Linked DNA regions of Homo sapiens. The protein of the gene in region 1 interacts with the protein of each later gene in a pairwise test. Each region holds a gene or a part of one and is shown in the gene's direction. Other genes may lie near its edges.

Region 1 (3,818 bases):
TTCATTCCCATCTAGTTTCCCATCAGTAGTGGGGAGAGGAGAAGAGGCTGGCTGGAGCCCCAGGCTGGTTTCTGAGTCCTTGGGTGCCCAGGAAGAAACCCCCTGCCTTACCCTCTACAGGGTGCTGAGGTGCTGTCAGAGAATGATCTGAAAAGAGTGGCCAAGCCAGAGGAGCTGCAGTGGGAGTTAGGAGGTCACAGGGACCCCTCTCCCAGTCACTGGGTAGAGATACACCAGGTAAGCTTCCCCTCTACCACCTAGCATGCTGGGAGCCAGGAATAACCCAGCTGAAGACATTCTAGGAGAGAGGCCATGTCCAGGACATACCATGAGGTTGCAAAAAAGTGGTTTCCATTCCATTCAATTCAACAAGTATTTATGGCTCCCAAATCATGAGGAAAACATGTGCACTGTGCCATGTTCTACTGGGGAGATAGGAGGAGTATGATAAATTATTATAATTATTATTTTTAGACAGTCTCACTCTGTCACCCAGGCTGGAGTGCAATGCTTCGATCACAGCTTACTGCAGCCTCGACCCTCTGGACTCAGGCGATCCTCCCATGTCAACCTCTTGAGTAGCTGTGGCTACAGGCATGTGCCACCACACCCACCTAGTTTTTGTATTTTTTTTTTTTTTTTTTTTGTAGAGACGGGGTTTTGCCATGTTGCCCAGGCTGGTCTCAAACTCCTGGACTCCAGTGATCCACCCGTCTCAGCCTCCCGAAGTGCTAAGATTACAGGCATGAGTGACTATGCCCAGCCAAATAAATTCTTAATATGACATTAAGTAGTGTATGATTTTTGGTGGGAGATAAATCATGAAACAAGTAGAGAAGAGTGCAAGATAGTGTCATTGGGTTTCTGGAAAGCACTGAGAGTCAAAAGGCTGGTTCTTGTTCCAAATTACTTTACCTCACTTGCAGAAATAGTGCCCTTTCTGTATCCGCTCCTTGCACCAACATCCAGGCCTCAGGATCCTCATCAGCGCAGTATAACAATCACAATATAATTGCTAAAGGTCCTTCCAGCACTTATCTCATGTAATTCTATGAATATAAGTGTTGTGAGTATTCAAGAAGAGAGAAATAAACATGATCTGAGCTGAGTATGAAAGAGGGGTCTGTAGATGGTCTCTAAGCTTCGCCTTTAGTGTCAAAGGGGAAATTGACATGAATAGGCAGAGAGAGGGGGTGTGACAGGGGGAAGCCCCACTGAAGACAGACAGGAAGGTCACAGTTACCAAGCTGTACAATGTGCCAGGCCCACGTTAGTTGCTAAACTGGCATCATCTCCTTAAAAATCACAGAAGCCTTTCTTATCCTGACTTTACAGTTGAGGAACTGAAGTTCAGGAAGGTTTCTGAACCTGCCCAACCTCATACAATTAGTTAGCAACAAAGTCAGGAACTGAATTCAGCATTGCCTCCATAAAAGTCTCTGGGGCTACCGCACCCCAACCCTAGGGCTTAAGTTCCTTCTTAAACTCTGATCCTCAACTCCATCCCTGCATGTGGGTTTCAGGAAGTGGTAAGGCTATGTCGCCTGTGCCAAGGTGTGCTGGGCTCGGTACGGCAGGCCATTGAGGAGCTGGAGGGAGCAGCAGAGCCAGAGGAAGAGGTATGAAATGAGATGGGACAGTGGGGGGATGGGATTGGGATGGGGCTGGGGTGGAGACTCTCTGGTGGAACCCCAACTGGCAACTCCTCCCTATCCCCAGGAGGCAGTGGGAATGCCCAAGCCACTGCAGAAGGTGCTGGCAGATCCCCGGCTGACGGCACTGCAGAGGGATGGGGGGGCCATCCTGATGAGGCTGCGCTCCACTCCCAGCAGCAAGTACGAAGTATGGGTGTGCGGAGGCAGGTGGAAGTGGGAGGTGGAGACACAGCTGAAGGCTGCCAACAAACCTTAGCTGCCAGACCATTCTTACTGTGCATGTATCTGGGCAAGATACTATGCTTTTACACTTACTGTCTCATAACCCTCACAACATCCTTATGTGCCATTTACTATTACAAATGAGGATTTGGAGGATCAGAAATGTTAACTGTCTTGGCCAACATCGGTCAGTAAAGAGTCAGGATTCAAACCAAAGCAGTCAGGGTTCAGCCCATGCTTTTGATCCATGCTGCTATGCAACCTCTCATGTTTGCATCCCTCAGAGGCACGGAAGGACAGAATTGAGGGGCTCAACAAGGGAAATGATTCATTCTTCTCTGCTCCTTCCCAAGGCTGGAGGGCCAAGGCCCAGCTACACTGTATCAGGAAGTGGACGAGGCCATTCACCAGCTTGTGCGCCTCTCCAACCTGCACGTGCAGCAGCAAGAGCAGCGGCAGTGCCTGCGGCGACTCCAGCAGGTGAGCCAGGATCCCCACGTCCCTCTTACTCAGCCTGGGAGTGTGGCCTCCAGCACCTTTCCCGTTGGTACTTATAGTTGATGGTGTTCTTCTAGCCTGGCTTGGTTGAACGCCCCTCCCTCCTCCTCACATTTGTTGGTCAGTGTGAGATTGAACAAGAGGGTGGGAGCATCATAGCACCAGTAAAGAAAAGCCAGATCTTCCCCTCCCCACTGTTTACACTTGATCGAAAATGCTGAGAGATTGTGAGAGATGCTCAGCTGCCCTAGGGGATTCTGAAGAGCTGATCAACTCTGGAGTGCCTACCACCTTAGCTGAAAAATAATAAAAGTCTATTGATACCAGCTCATTAGTTATACTGCCACACACACACCCTTAACTCCTTATGCGATGTCATCCCTCAGACCTGAGGCCGGAAAGGTCCCACCTCCCTCTCCCTTGGAAGGAGAGAGCATTGAAAGCACCTAAGAGGAACTACAGGCTTCTTTGTGGGGAAGATTCAGGAATAAGGCTGGCTTCTCTGAACCTTGATTCTTCTCTCCTGGGGTTAAGAGCCCCATAGGGATTTGCTCTCCACCCTACCATGTGGGGTAGAGGGGGCTTTGAAATCTGATTGTTCCTCCTTAGCCCCGAGCATGGTGAATGGACACTTCATGGACCTGTACGTGGGCATCAGGGGAAAGGTCACCTCAGGGCCGGTGCAAAAGCGGGGGCCAAGACTTTCTGTTTCCTAGGATTTCTTCATATTGGCTTCCTCTAAGCCAATATCCTAGAGATGGGTTGCATCTCCTCCTGTTTGCTTACCTGCTTGTTAGCTGTTTCCCCAACTGTTTAAAAACAAGATTTGGAGTCTAACGTGCTCAGCTTGAGTTCTAGTTCTGCCATGTGTAAGATGTTGGACAAGTCATGAAGCTCCTCTGAGTTCCCAAGTCCTCATCTATAGAATGCGGATGGTAACAATTAACTCACAACGTGGTCAGAAAGATCAAGTGAATTCAGCAAAGGACTATAAAAGTGGTTATTGTTGGCACTGGCTATTAGGAACAGTCTCAGACTTCTCATCCTCAGGCTGTCCCACCCCCAGCTTCCAGCCTTTCTTCAGAGGAAAATATTACCATCCCGTTCTGGTCAAACATCTCAGAACCAGCATGAGAGTTCATATAGCCTCATATTAGGAAATTAAAGCCGGACACACACACACACACACACACACACACACACACACACACACACACACACCCCTTCTGTACTGTTTCTCCAGGCTTGGTCCCTGGGACCGTTTCTCACCAGTTGCCAAGGCTTGGTGAAGGCCGTCAGTCATCCCTATGACCCTCATCCTGCTTTTGGTTCACCCCAGTTTGATGTACTTCACCCTCGGACATAGCCCTGGAACTTTGACCCACTCCCTCAGTGCTTCCCATCAGCCCAGCTTCCCTCTCATCTGCCTTACCAAAGATTTCT
Region 2 (3,818 bases), on another chromosome or scaffold:
GTATAAAACATTATGCCAGTGTCTCCCTTCTGCACTCATAAGCTGTGTCTACACAGGCAGGGTGGACTGGAGACCAATGTCATAATAAACGATAAACACCTTGTAAGGGGACACGCTGTGTCTGGCCACCCAGAACTCAGTCTCCAAAGCCCACTGCATGAGAGGCAGGGGCAGGAACCCCCAATTATACATTTCAGAAGTCATTTCACCTACTAGGAAAATGAGACACAAAGTATGTAGAAATCCGTCATGTGGTGTGTGGGCAGCCAACCCGAATAACTCAGGACCTCCAAAAGAGCAGACTTCTATTCCTCCTGAGTAGCAGATCTTTCTCTCCCAAGCTGACCGGTCGAAACCCTGATTGAGTCCTTCAGTTCCACACTTTCCTTTTGCTCTATATGATAAATATAGTCAGGGCCTGACCCACTTCGGTTATCCCAGGGTCCCAAGGGGAACGCGGAGTTGCTGCTCAGGGCAAGGCAGGAACACAACAAGCAACATATGGCTCCAGTGCCAACAACGCAAATACATTTTTAGATGGCATGTGGCATCAGACTCACCTTCTTCGTGTTCTCCCTGGCCACTTATATGCCCTGTTGAAACGCCCTGTTACTATATCTCAGAAACGTCTCTCCTGCTTCATTGGAGAGCAATGCCAACATTTGGAGGTGGCCATCAGCTTAGGTGAGATTTATGGATGTCACCAGTCCCCATCCACTGACATATAGTAGTGAGCCTGACAAAGCAGTGCCTGGGAACAAGGAGGGGAGGCGAAGACGGGGCTGGCAGCCTAAACTGCAGAGGATGTGCGGTGTGGCCAGAGGGGAAACTGAAACCAGGGAAGGAAAGAGGTAGAACTTTGAACTCCTTGAGGCTCCCTAATAAAGCATCACTCTGGATTAACGGGAATTAGGAAACGTAATAGGAAATCCGGAGGAAAGACGTGTATTTAAGGGCAATCCCACAGGATGTCAGGGAAGAATACCAAGAACAGATTGCCACAGCCCTCGCATAAATTCATCTTCCTCTTTTTTTTCCCAACCAACAGGAATACGTTCTCAAGTTAGAGACATCCCTTTCAAGTTGATGCTCAGCACATAACTGCTTAATAAACGGGCACACCCTGCCCTCCATTCTGTTTGGCTCTGGCTGGAGAGTCAAAAGAGAGGGGGCCACGGGGAGGCCATGCGGGCCACATGGTTTTTCAGAGATCAGACGCTATCTGTAGACATTTCTATGGCTGCTAAAGACAAAACCAAAATAAATGTGCTGGCTGGCTTCCCACTTCCAACCTAAACCCATTTACTTTCTCAACTCAGTGACTTCCGGGCCTGTCTAAAAACAGAGGGGTGACCTCTCCGACGACAGCTAGTTTCTATAGTAATGTGGGGTGCGGGGATTCCCGGGTAGGCATCCCACAATGCCTCCGGGCTGCGCGAGGTTGATAAGGGAGCAGCACCGAGCTCGCCTCCACACCCCCAACAGCTGTCTCCTTTCTAGGATAAGCACAATCAGACGGGGTTGCCAGGAAAGAGAACTGCAGGCCAGATGTATGCCTGGCTGCCTTCGCCACTCGGAGGCAGGGAGCGTGGGGGAGGGGCCGCCAGTGCGGCAGTTCAGACTCCAGATGCTGCCAGGCAGGGTGCCAGGCCAGCCTTTTAGAGGCAATAATCCGAACAGTTTAAAGGAGTAGAGTCATTTTCAAAAAGGAAAAGAGCGCTCTTCCTGGTAGGGTAGGAGGAGACAAGGGTATGGATTTGGGGCGTGGGAGGCACGGAGGCAGAAAGGGAGGTACAATCAGCAATCAATCTCGGTGTCGCCCCTGGAATCAAGGGAAAAAGGAAACGTGTGAGATTTGGACATGCAGGCACCTTCCACTTAGGGAAGACTGCTTGTGAGAACCGTGAGGGATTTATGGATTTGTGTCTGGCCAAATTCCCTTTGTGTTCCAGAAAAGTTGCCACCACACAACCAACACAGGGCTACCTGAGGGACACATAGCCACGGAAGCCCCCGTTGGAGGGAAACTCACAGAGTAGCCAGGGAGGAAGGAGGGAGATGTGTTCGTCTACAGAATGAACATCCCTTGTTGCCCAGTGCTGGGGGTGTCATGTCACTCTGGACGTGCCTCCGGATGTCGCATTGCCTGTCACCTGGGAGGACGTCCGTCTCTGGTGGGGCCTTGGGGTTCTGATGTCAGAAATATCCTGTGTAAGCCCAAGAAGGGCTGAAATGTCCAAGCATGTAACGAGGTCTTCTGCTTTCTGCCCCTCTCTCCCTTCCCCGGCCTGTGTGTTCTCAGGGCAAGTCATTCATCAAAGACGCCTTGAAATGTAAGGCCCACGCTCTGCGGCACAGGTTCGGCTGCATAAGCCGGAAGTGCCCGGCCATCAGGGAAATGGTGTCCCAGTTGCAGCGGGAATGCTACCTCAAGCACGACCTGTGCGCGGCTGCCCAGGAGAACACCCGGGTGATAGTGGAGATGATCCATTTCAAGGACTTGCTGCTGCACGAGTGAGTACTGCCCCGCAGAGGGCCTGGGTGAAGGGGCCACCCAGCAAGGATGGCAATGTGTATGGGAGGAGAGCCGCGTTGCTTCTAGAGGCTGAATGCCTGTCAAATGGAGAAGGCTTCCATTTACTTCAGAAAGCTACACTGACTCTACTAAAAGGCCCCTTTCCTGCTGGCTTTTAGGAAAAGAGAGAATTCCCTCATCAGTCTCAAAATCACAAGCAACAGAAATGGGAAATCGTTTTACTAAGAATGAAATGTGTCGATTCAGTAATACTCTTCATCTTCCCCTTAGCCAAGAACCCACTAGCTCTCAGAATATTCTGAGTAGCTGTAGAGGTGTCCTTACAGACAGCAAATTGCTAATAACATTTGTTGAATATTTACTAAGCGCCAGGCACTGGGCTAAGGGCTCCTTGTGAATTTTTCACTTGATCCTCACCACAGCCCTCGTCACCTCCATTTGACAGATGAGAAAACTGAGACTCACTAAGGCAGAGCTCACACAGCTAGTGACAGGCAAAGCCAGACTTGGGACCTGGCTCCAGTCTGCTGAGCAGTCTGCCTCCAGAACCTATACTCTTAAATCCCGAAAACAGAGCTATAGATGCTTTTCCTGCCTCCTTAACTTTCCTTTCCCTTAGAAGGTTCGGTTTACCTTCTCTCATACATTAGTGCCCTCTCAGAGGAAATGCAAAACAAGTGCCAAAAACTTTAATCAGCTAAACACTTCTATGCCAAAACAAGGAAATGTGAACTTACTTATTTCAAGACTTGAAATTCAATGATAAATTCAGGATGCATCATTTCTTACAAAATATTTCAGCCACAGGATCCTAAATTTTGCAGCATGGTAAAGCATGTTGGTACACAATTGTTCCTAACATGAGGCAGGGCCAGGAGCCCCTGAAGATTTTTTTTTTAAATATTGACAATGGCTCTTTCCTAAGAGACACAGGGCAGAAAGAAAGCCACTAGCCAACCAGTTCAGTACAAGTCATTACCAGTTTGATGGCACTGTTGGTCTCTCCACGGTGACTCATTGAGCCAAATCGGTATAATTTTATGAACTCTTGATCCTCAGTTTGTGCCACAACCTTCTTCCAGTTATGTCCCTACCACACCAACACCACTTAGATGACAGAGAACAGCAAGCACCTCCTGTCTCTTTCCACTTGGTTATAAGGTCATAGGCATCTTGCAACACCCTTGCTACAGTGTTAGAATCATACAATTCATGGCGAAACTCTGCAGGAAGCTCTTGCCAAAAGCAAAACAATATTGCATTTTCCTCGAATTAGGCTAAC

What was found.
Region 2: the proteins of ARHGEF40 (region 1) and STC2 interact in a two-hybrid assay, tested with the Homo sapiens proteins (one large-scale study listed by BioGRID and IntAct).

The regions. Positions count from the first base shown.
Region 1 is NC_000014.9:21,076,654-21,080,471, forward strand, and holds part of ARHGEF40 (rho guanine nucleotide exchange factor 40), read left to right. Parts: intron 1-120; coding exon 121-237; intron 238-1,523; coding exon 1,524-1,619; intron 1,620-1,719; coding exon 1,720-1,835; intron 1,836-2,230; coding exon 2,231-2,357; intron 2,358-3,818. UniProt on the Homo sapiens protein: May act as a guanine nucleotide exchange factor (GEF).
Region 2 is NC_000005.10:173,321,915-173,325,732, reverse strand, and holds part of STC2 (stanniocalcin-2 precursor), read left to right. Parts: intron 1-2,302; coding exon 2,303-2,514; intron 2,515-3,818. UniProt on the Homo sapiens protein: Has an anti-hypocalcemic action on calcium and phosphate homeostasis.